Linked DNA regions of Homo sapiens: region 1 is linked to region 2. A link means that fine-mapping ties the variant in region 2 to the expression of a gene that starts in the linked region. Tissue or cell type: whole blood. Region 2 holds a variant in brackets; the other region holds the start of a gene. All regions are shown on one strand. Distances are between the middles of the regions.

Evidence for each region. PIP is the estimated chance that this variant, and not a neighbour inherited with it, causes the effect.
Region 1: it holds the start of NEURL1, and the variant in region 2 is fine-mapped to the expression of NEURL1 in whole blood (TOPMed, PIP above 0.99).

What each region holds. Positions count from the first base shown.
Region 1 is chr10:103,491,146-103,496,646 of GRCh38, reverse strand. NEURL1 (neuralized E3 ubiquitin protein ligase 1) reads right to left here and starts at 2,942. Exons shown (of 6, transcript NM_004210.5): 1 at 2,175-2,942. The coding sequence starts at 2,259. It overlaps NEURL1-AS1 (NEURL1 antisense RNA 1), which reads left to right. Exons shown (of 4, transcript NR_120675.1): 3 at 1,912-2,086. RefSeq lists silencers at 2,264-2,363, 2,444-2,573, 2,584-2,733 and an enhancer at 2,048-2,597.
Region 2 is chr10:103,948,752-103,954,776 of GRCh38, reverse strand. The region is part of intron 3 of LOC102724351 (a long non-coding RNA gene); the gene reads left to right. Among named protein-coding and RNA genes, the nearest start is that of SLK, 15 kb to the left of the region's middle. The variant A/G (reference allele first, on the strand shown) is at 2,685.

The sequences.
Region 1 (5,501 bases), 460 kb after region 2:
GTTTCCAATGCTCAGAAACAGTCTTCATACTTGCTAACACTGATAGCTTATTTCTGATTACAAAAATAATACTTCCTTATTATAGAAATTTTAGAAAAGAGCAAAATATAAAAAAGAAAAAATGCAATCCCATATGATCCTATACCCAGAGGAAATAATTGTTAACCCTTTGGAAACTTTACAAGCATTTTTGCTTGTTTTGTTTTTGTTGGGGTTTTTTGCATTCACACCACTTTTTAAACAAAATTGGGATCATACAGTCTTCACAACTTTGTATTCTGTCGTTATACTGTGAGCATTTTCCACAGTCATCAACTATTCTTCACAAATATAATTGTAATCACTGCATAGTACTCTACCAAGAATATATACCATGATTACTGAGCATTTAGGTTATCCACCTAGTATAAATAACACTGCCATGAACATCCTAGCCTAGTGCCATAAGTATATATTCCTGCATCTCCACTTCCTTAGTATCAATTCCTCAAGGTAGAATTACAAGGTCAACAAACTGATTTTTTTTTTTTTTTTAGCAAGACAGAGTCTCGCTCTGTCGCTCAGGCTGGAGTGCAGTGGAACGATCTCAGCTCACTGCAACTTCCATCTGCCAGATTCAAGGGATTCTCCTGCCTATCTGCCTCCCAAGTAGCTGGGATCATAGGCACGCACCACTATGCCCGGCTAATTTTTGTATTTTTAGTAGAGACAGTGTTTCGCCATGTTGGCCAGGCTGGTCTGGAACTCCTGACCTCAAGTGATCCACCTGCCTCAGCCTCCCAAAGTGCTCGGATTACAGGCGTGAGCCACCGCACCCTGCCAACAAATTGATATTTTTAAAGTATCTTGACATGTATTGCCATATTAATTTCCAGAAAGACACAACAAATCCACTGATTTTCCTGAGCCAAGTGAAAGCTGAAGTTCTGAAAGAGCTGGAGTATTAGAATGCAGGACAGTGGTCCTATCTCTCCTCCTCTTCCCTGGTCTTAAAAGTTAACTGTTCAGCAAAAGAAGGGACAGAATTCCAAGTCAAAAGATAGGGGTCTACAGCCTAGCACCTAGCGCCGAGGTCTGGCTGGCTTTGGGAACCTGAAGCAAGCCTTGGTTCTCCTCATCTGTAAAATGGGTATAGTGTGATTAGCTCTGCTCTGCTGACTACCCCAAGCAGTGTCCATGCTCACTGAAAATGTGTTTGAGAAAGTTCGATGCCTTGTGTTAAAGGGCACTATTGTTATCCTTCTCATAACCTGAGGAGCTTAGGAAGTGGGGTATTCTTTCTGAAAGCCCAAGGGCTTCCCTTCCTGGCTTTTAGCCATCATGCCCAGGACAAGTGCCACTGGTTCTGAGGTGACAGAAAAGCACCTTCCGGAAGGAATTTAGTAGGGTCTGAGGGCCCGGGAGGACCCAGCAGTGTCTTCCAAAGGTCAGAGACAGCATTGGAAGATCCAAGACAGGAATGGCAGGCTCCGAATGGGGAGACTGGGCCTAGGGCCACCCTGAGGGTGCTGAGTGGATCTGGGGAGGTGAAGAGCAAAGACATTCCTAGTAAATGTCCCTCTGTTTCAAGGCTCCCAGACCCTCTTTTCTAGGGCTCTGACTGGATATCTGGTCTTTGGGAAAACCAGAAATCAAACTAATTCAATGGATGCAAAAACCCAACGGCTGCAAAGGACCCCAGGAACCAGCAGCTCTGACCCTTTCTTCCAGGCTGCTGTAATCCTGTCCTGAATTTTTAAAACCCTCCCATTGGAAATGCAACTAGTGCTCCCAGCCTGGTCTCTCCAGCCCTAGGGCCGATGGAAAGGAGACCCATCGAGGTGCCTCCCTGGAGACACGGACGACCCAAGCTTCCCTCCTCACTCCCCACTCCCCTATCGACCTGGCAAACATCCTTTCCCATCTCTTCAGGCTCGCCTAAGACCATGGCCTGAGGGGACTCCAGTGACGTTCCCAGTGCCAGCAGACAGAACTGCGCAGACCCCGCGGGACGCCATCCTCCATCACCATCATCGCCGGCTGCCCTCCACCCCCAGCCCACTCCACGGCCAGAGGTGCATCTCCGGCCTCCAGACACGCACAACAGGTGGCGTCTGCCCGCCCTCCCCAACCACACCTCCCTGGCCCTCCACCTGCGCCCCAGTCCTCCAGCAGCGCTCGGCCGGGGAGCCTACCTTTGAGGTTCTGGGGGTGGCCCCGCGGCGCGCGGCTCGGGTTTCCTCGGGGCAGCGAGGGGATACTGGAGAAGTTGTTACCCATGGCATCCGGCCCCAGGAGGTTCGGCGCTCGCGGGTGGGGGCGAGGCCGGGCAGGCGCTGAGGTGCGGTGTGCGAGTGTGCGCGCGCGGGTGCGCGCCACCGGGGGAGGGCCCTGCTGGGGCTGCAGCCGGGGGCGGGCGGGCAGCTCCTCAGCTTCCTTTCTCTGGACTTCGCGGTCCTTGGCGGGTTCCGCCCGCCACGGGTGTCCTGGCGCAGGCTGGGCTACCTGCCTCCCATGCCCCGTGGCGGGAGCGGGGGCCACAAGCAGGGCCCTGGGCCGGGGCCGGGGACGCCCGGGGCTCCCCGCTTGCTCCCCGGGACGCTAGGGTTCCGGCTGGGGGTGGGCGGCGCGGCGGCTCCGGCGCGCTCCCCCGGGGCCATAGAGTCAGGGTCGCTGGCGTGGGCGTTCGGCGGCTCCGAGGCAGGCTCGGTTACCGCCCCGCGGAGACGGCCGCGGCGGCGATGTGCGTGGCTCCCTCCCGCCCGCGGGTCTGCGTGGAGCGGGGCTCGGCGGAGCGCGGGGCGTTCTGGGCGCTCCGACGCAGCTGGTGTCCCCCGACCGCCGCGGTCCCGCCCGCGCCGGGTCCCTCCTGCGACCGCCGCCCCCGCCCCCCGCCCCGGCAGTCTCCAGGATTCCCTCGCTCCGGTTGTTATGGTGACAGCTGCGCCGGTGAATGAGCGTCTTAGTGACACGCGCGCGCCCGCTAGGCCAGATGTGGCCCCGGGGCGCGCCGCGTTCCCGTAGCCGCAAGCTCTCGGCGGCGCGGGTCGGGGTAAGACATCAGGCGAGTATGGTGGCACCCGGGGCTGGCCTTATTCCCAGCACGGAAACATGGAACTTGCACTTGAAAACAAGGGGAGCAGGGCCGCGAGAACGCCGAGCTCCCCGGATGCGGGGGCGGGCGAGCCAGCACTAATGTTCGGTTTCCCTAGCTCCAGGTACCGGGCCTGGCGCAGAGTGGAGAGCCCAGGGAAACATGTAAATGAGCGAGCGGATGCTTGGATAAAGTAATTGAGATTAGAACCCCGGCACTTGACCCTCCGTTCTCAGCCAGGCTAGGGGCACTAGGGCAAGGGTTCAGAGCAGGAACCCCGGGCAGTCTCACTGATGCACAGATGCCACTGAGGGCCTTTGAATGCCCGCGGACCAGACTCACAAGCCTGGAGCTCTGGCCAAGCTGAGGGAACAGATCTCCGGGACAGATCATCAGAAGACCACCAGCTCTGAACTGAGTGGTTCTGTTAGCTATAACAAGGTGGGGGAGAGGAGCCTCTGCAGCCTATGGCAGTCAAAGAAGGCTTCCTGGAGGAAGGGGGTTTCAGCAAGGGCCCTGCTCATGTGGCTAGTGCCTTCCTGTAGCTCAACACTGCACCAAGAAGCCTTCAGGAAGGGAAACAGAAGTCATTCTTCTCCTTCCTGGACCCGGGGCATCTCTCCTGGTCTATCAGGGATGGAAGATGTTCCAAGGTTCCCCCCAGGGAATCAGACTTCCTGCTCCTCTAAGTCATCTCTAGCTCCCTGCTCTGGCTTCAGCAACTCAGATCCAGAGTCCAGTGAAGACATGGGTGGGCAGGGGGACATCTCATGTATCCTTTTCTGTAATAAAGGTTCTTCCCCCAAGTCTCCATTTGGCAGCTCCTCATTATCTAGGCACAATTCGTGTCCTGACATTCCCTGACTGCCCCAACTAAAGGACCCCCTCCACTGTCAGTCACTTTCCACAATATTCCATTTTATTTTCATCATAGCTTTTATATGGAACTTGTTTACAAGTAGCCTTTCCTCGTTTATCTTCTGCCTCCCTGCTAGAACATAAGCTCTGTGAGGGGAGAGCACAGGTCAGTCGTGTTCACCAGGGTGTCCTTACCCACTGGGGGAATGCCTGGCATGTGACAGATTCTCAGAAAATAATTGTGGAATGCATGCTTCCCACTGTGGGCCAGGAGGCTCCACTGAGATCCCTGGGGGCAGAGCCTCCTGAACCACCCTTTATTTTCCTCTCCTACTCTCCTCTCTCCATCCCCATTCCAGGCATTCTACCCTTAAATGTCTGGGACTCCAGGCAAGCTAGAAATATCTGTGACAGCCACTGTCTCTCTGGAATCTGGAGGGAAAGGCAGCCCCGAACCCGGCCTCCAGCCTCCCAGATGCCCAGGATCACGTGTGCAGGCAGCTGCAGATGGCCACAGCAGGTCAGGGATGGCTGTCTTATTTATGGGCAGTATCTTCCCAAGGCTCACTCCCAGCTAATGACTCATGCATCAGAAATCCACAGGCTCTTAATGGCAACACACTCACACATGTGCTAACACACCGCTACACTATCTCACACACTCACACCTATACAAGCACACACACTTATATTCCCCCTGAAATCTGCCGGAATGAAGTCACTGTGAGTGGCCACTAGAATCAGGCCTTTCACAAGTTAGAACAAATATGAGGACTCTGCATAGTTGAGACTCATCCTGCTAGAGTGTGTTTGAAGTACAAGGGCCTAGCTAGGATTTACAGACGGTGGCTCCAGGGAAGCCTGGTGTGGGCAGGGGAATGGGGGAGGGGATGAGGCCCCAAAGGTAGAGCACAGCAGGGATGTCTTGAACTGCTGACCTCAGGTGATCCACCTGCCTCGGACTCCCAAAGTACTGGGATTACAGGCATGAGCCACCGCGCCTGACAAAGGGATGTCACAGGCCCCACATGGCCTAGACCTGGGGCTATGGGCAAAGCAGGGGAGAGAGGAAGACGTCAAAGGGAAGGAGGGAAGTGAAGGCCAGAGGCGGATGCTCACCTGAGTCCAGAGGCAGCCCAGGTTCTGCAGTTCAGGGCAGCGTGATCCCAGGGAGTCCCAAAGGAAGGTGAGAGGCGTCAGGGACAAAGGCAGGGAACTGAGGGTTGAGGAGCTGATGGGAGTATCAATAGGGCTGGGATAGGATGAGGTAGCCAAGGCATCCCTGGCGCAAAATTGAAGAAGGCGCCAACTCTCAAGTTCATGCAGATACCAAGCTTGCACTTGCGCGAGCCTGGGAATTAGGTCCTCTTATATTTCACGCCCTAGGCCCCTCTCTACCTTCACCCTAGTACTTCAGGGAGCTCTGTACTGGAAGAGGGGACACCACTGTTAGAGTCAACTAGGTCTCTGGCCAGGAAGGGACCTAGAGGAGGTTGGTGTGGCTGCATAGGACTCAGAGAAGTTGAGCGTGGCCCTTCTGAGGAGTCCTGTGCCCCAGCAACTCCTCCCT
Region 2 (6,025 bases):
CCAAATAAATGGAGAGGTATACCATCTTCATGGATTAGAAGACTTAATATTGTTAAGATGTTCATTCTCCCCTAACCGATGTCTAAATTCAATGCATTCACAATCAAAATCCCTTCAGGGTTTTGTCTGAAAATGGCAAGCTAATGCTGAATATGGAAAAGCAAACAATCTACCATATAACAAAAGAGAGAAAAAGAGAACAAAGATACAGGATTTACACTACAAGGTTTCAAGACTTATCATAAGCTATAGTAATCAGGAGAGGTTCTGGTCTAAAGATGGGCAAAAATGAAACATAAGAGAGAACCCAGCATTAGACATACATACATATATATACACATATACATGTATATGTATACATACACATATGTATATGCACACACGCACACATATAGTCAATTGATTCTTGGCAAAGGTGCCAAGGCAATTCAATGAGGAAAGGATAATATCTTCAACAAATAACGCTGAAACCATCAGCCACATGAAAAAATAAAAAGTAACCTCAACCCCCACATTATACCATATACCACAAGTAACTCTAAATGGAATATAGAGCTAAATGTAAGAGCTACAATTAAAAATTATAAAATTATAAAACATCTTTTAAAAATCTTAGTGATCTTGGCTTTGGAAAAGATTTCTTAAATATGACACAAGAAGCATAAACTATAAGAGAAAGAAATTAATGAATTGGGTTTAATCAAAATTTAAAACTTTTTCTCTTTAAAAAATGCTACTAAGAAAGGCAAGCCACAAACTCAGGGAAAATATTTCCAAAACATATACCCAACAAATAACTTGACTCTTAAAGAAGACTTACAGAGCAGTGGGCTTAACCTCATTTGCAAAGGGTCGAGAGAGGCAAGAAATCTGTGGTCAAATAGTATGGCAACACTGGGACCAGATCTAGAAATAGAACTCAGGTGTCCTAACTGCCTGGAGTGTTTTTTCCAAGCCAACTAACCCAATTTAAAAATTGGCAAGATATTTAGACACACATTTCAACAATAAAAAAGATATATGGAGGGCATACAAGCATATGAAAATATGTTCAACATCATTAATCATAAGGGAAATGTAAATGAAAACCACGATGAGATACCAGTCCCCAACCACCAGAATGGCCAAAATTAAAAAGACTCTCCCCATCAGGTGTTGGCAAGGATGCTGAGCAACTGGAAAAACTCATATATTGCTGGTGGGAATGTAAAATGTGCAACTAATTTGAAAATCAGTTTGATGGTTTCTCAAACTGTCAAACATATATTTACCATATGATCCAGCCATTTCACTCCTAAGTATTTACAGAAAAGAAGGTATAGGTCCAAATACTTGCCCATGCATGTTTATAGCAGCTTTGTGTATAATAGCCCAGGTTGGAAACAACTCAAATATCTATCAACAGGTGTATAGGTAAACAAATTGCAGCATATCCATACAAGGGTATACTACTTAGCCATAAGAAGGAATGAGCCATAGATATACCCAACAATGTGGATCAATCTCAAAATAATCATGCTGAGTTAAAGAAGTCAGGCTCCCCCAAAAAAAGAGTACATTCCATTTATACAGTAAACGGAAACAAATGAAAACGAAACTATAGTGACAGAAAGAAGATCAATAGTTGCCTGTAGAGAGAGGAGGGAAGAGAGATTACAAGTGAATATATATGTCAAAACTTTATTATAAAGCTGAATTATAACTTTATAATTGTGAATTATAAATTTGTATGTTCCTGTATAATCTCTCCCGCCTCCCTCCTCCGTCTTCAGGCAACTATTGATCTGCTTTCTGTCACTATAGTTTTGTTTCATTATAATCAATTTTATGACCTTGTATTTTGTTCAAAGGCAAATTCATAGGTTTACCTTAATGATATTAATAAACCCAAATTTACGTTACTGTTCTGCAGTTAACATAGCTTTACACTCAAAGACCCCAAGCAAAATGTTAAGAAATCACCTTTCATTGGTCACATTGTTCATTACAATTTCATTTTCATAGGAAAGAAAAATGGTAGCATGTAGGGATGATGTGAATGGACTTTGGCGCCCCCATCATTACCATTGACAACCACCTCCTTCATTCTTTGACATGGACAAGTATTAATATTATAGACGTAGTTTTTCTCAACATTATGTAAAGTGATATGTAAACACAGCTTAGAGGTAAGTCTGCCAGTTCCAAACGAATAGTTTAGACCCCCCTAAGCCTCTTCCATGTACGATTTTGAGCAAGCACTAGGGGAGGCCTTTCCCTTTCTGTGATTCTTTCCATAATAGGGAGCCACTGCGGTGGTTTTTATACCTGATTAGCACCAATAATCATACTGAGATTTGTAGAGCATCTTGCTTATAATTGATATTTACTGACTTTCACAAAATGTAGGCTTCTGTTGGAACCCTGAAAGTCCTTTCCTCTCACTGAATCTTTCTGCCTCACTCAGGAGACCATCCTAATTCTATTCTACAGCTTTGCCTTTCAAATGTTTGCTGGTTCACATAACAGCAAGGATTAGGGAATTATTAAGGGATAAAGACTGCTTTGAAGCCAAATATTACTGCCATCCCACACCAGAACCAATCCTGCTAAACTAACAAACTCAGAAGCACTTGTTCCCTTCCAGAGAGCTTTCCTTTGTTCCAGAGAGCTTTCCTTTGTCCTCCCCTCAAACCACACGATTT[A/G]GTTTCCCGAGGAAGCCTATGTTCCATTATGGTTTGATAGTATCCAGATTCTCCAGATAAGCTTATTTACAATGTGTTATACGCCTATAAACCAGGCCAACTGAGTTGTTTTCAAATTATTCACTCCTTCTTAGAGCGGGCAAAACAAACTAGTTCAAGTATTTGATATAAAAGCATTGTAAGGTGATGTGCTTCTCCAGCTTCAATAAAACATCATTTTATTAAGGAACAAGGGTTTCTGTGTAGTCAAAGTATTACTTATTCATGGGCTACACAGAAGGAAAAATTCAGTATCCCCTTAATTCCCAAGACCGTGTAGCAAATTAACCAGCAGATTTAAACCCCCTTTATTAGAGTTTTAAATAATGAGTGGAGGCACCATCTTAAAAAAGAAAAAGAACAGTGATGTTTCTGATATGGAAGACGTTTCATCTTTTTACAGTTTGCTGAGCATTGGGGGTAGGAACTCAAAGAGACCAGCAATCAAATGACATGTCAATATTTTAATATGGGAAGCCAGAGCCAAGGAGAAAGAGCCAAAATCCAGTGCCGTTCTCAGCTGCAGCAGCTGCCTTGGAAAGGTCTGAGAGGGGTTTTGACAAATTTAAATTGTCATTGAACCTTTGGAAAACAATTTTGTTAGAGAAGTGGTGCTACAATGTGCCCCCTTCAGGAGTCTTCAGAACTGTCCCAGCTGAGGCTCTCCTCTCCCTAGGCCACATCCTTTTCCTGAGACAGCCCTCATCCACTGACTGCTTGATGCCAGGGTCTGTCAAGGTCTAGCCCCCCTGTCTCAACTCAGGACGACCCTGAAGGGCTGTTCCAGCTTCAGATATCTCAGTGGGGTTAACTGAGGCCTTCACTGAGACTGTTTCATGATCCAACTTCTTCCTGCCCAATCCTGCTTCCTTCCCCTCTCTAAGTATCAAATCCAAGAGTATTTGCATTTCAGCACACTCTTGTCTCACACCTGTTTTCCCCCAAAACCCATTAATTTGTTCTCATCTTATTCTTAAAAAATAGTTGAACAAATAAGATATAAAGTTAAAGATTAGGATCCCAAGGCTGGGCATGGTGGCTCACACCCTTAATCCCAGCAATTTGGGAGGCCAAGGTGGGCAGATCACCTGAAGTCAGGAGTTTGAGACCAGCCTGGCTAATATGGCAAAACGCTGTCTCTACTAAAAATACAAAAATTAGCCAGGCATGGTGGTGCACACCTGTAGTTCCAGCTACTTGGGAGGCTGAGGCAGGAGAATCACTTGAATCCAGGAGGTGGAGGTTTCGGTGAGCCAAGATTGCACCACTGCACTCCAGCCTGGGTGACAAGAGTGAGACTCCATCTCAAAAAAAAAAAAAAGATTAAGATCCTGTACCTCTATTCCTCTAGTACCACATCCTGGAAGGAATCACTGTTAACTATTGTTTGTATATCCTTCCAGAAAATAAGTCTACAACCATATACACACATTTATGTCACTTTTCTGCAGAAGTAAGAGTATCACATGCAAACTGCTCTGCAACTTGATTGATTTCATTTAACATATTCTGCATGTCTTTTCATATCAGTGCATACACATACTTTCATAGTAGTTTCATATTATTCCACTACATAGATGTACCATAAATTTTTAACCAGACTTTCCTACATGAATATGTGGATAGTGTTTTGTTTTTCACTTTTACAAATAAGATTACAAGGAACATCCTCAAATATCCTCTTTGCCCTTTTGTATAGTATATATATAGGATAAATTCATAGACGTAGAATTCCTGATCAAATGTTGTGAGAACTTAAACTCTTTTTAAATTGTAAAATTGCTTTCCAAAAAAACAGCACCAATTTAAATTCCAAAAATTTCCATAGTCAATGTAAGAGAATGCCCCTTTCCTTGCACCCTCACTAGATGTGGACATAACAAAATTTTTAAACCTTTGTCCATAATAAGAGGTGAAAAGATTATATGTGGGGTGCTGATATAGTTTGGATATTTGTCCCTCCAAATCGCATGTGAAATGTGATCACCAATGTTGGAGTTGTTCGGGTCATGAGGGTGGATGCTCATGATTGGCCTCATGGTAATGAGTGAATTCCCATACTTAGCTCCCGAAAGAACTGCTTGTTGAGATGAGCCTGGCACCTCCTCCTCTCTCTCTTGCTTCTGCTCTCTTGCAATGTGACCCCTGCACACACCAGCTCCCTTTCCCCTGCCCCTTCCACTGTGAGTGGAAGAAGCCTGAGGCACTCATTAGAAGCAGATGCTGGCACCGTGCTTCTTGTACAGCCTGCAGAACCATAAGACAAATAAATCTCTTTTCTTTATAAATTACCCAGCTTCAGGCATTCTTTTATAGCAACATAAGCTGACTAAGACACATGCCTTTGCATTAATATTTTTCAAATCCCTTTGGGCAAAGGAATTTAAAAATCTCCCTCCTCTCTTTGCTTCCTATAACCTCCTAGGCGGACTGAGACCATGACAGAACATGGAGTCTGCCATTCAGAATTCCATTTTCACTCCACTTGCCCTTTGGCCAGCCACCTTACACAGTGCTCAAACCGAACAACTACACATGGCAGCACTGGAGCCTCACTGTTTTGAATGATATGTCTTTAATTATGAGTAAGTCTGAACATCCTTTAGTATTTTTTATTGGCCATTTGTGTTTTGTTTTGTTTTTTCTTTATGGAGAGCTATTCTGAGTAGCTGAAAATCCATTGAGGCAATATTTTCATGACTCTGTACACTATCCCAATAGAATGAGTGAATGGTAAATGAAAATATTTCGTACTTTATTTATTATGTTGAAACAAGTCATCTTTAAATTTAGTGATTTTAGGCCACTAGTTCATCAGCCTCAACTAAAATTGCATATCCAAATGTATAATGTAATTCCTATAGAGCTGTCCTCTTTTGATGGTAATAAAGATAATGGTAATGATAATAGATACCATTAATCAAGCATCTAATATATGGTAAGCAGATTAGGAGGCAGGAGAGCTTAGAAGCCTCATACCCTCACCAGCTGTGCCTAAAATACAGCACAGGCTCTGCAATCTGATCAGTTCTATTCTGATCCCTGCTCTACAAACTGTGTAGCTTGGAGAATTTACTTAGCCTCTCTGAAACTTAGCTTCTTCACCTCTAAAGTGGGAACGTTATTATCATCATTATTTTTATTATTAATAATACATTCCTGATGGGGTTGTGGTAAATATTAAATAGTATGTCACTTAACATGGTGCCTGCTACCTGGTAAGTGCTCAACAATTGTGAGTTATGTTGACAGGGCATCTTATGTACATTATGGAACTCTCCTGATTTAAACAAACAAACTTC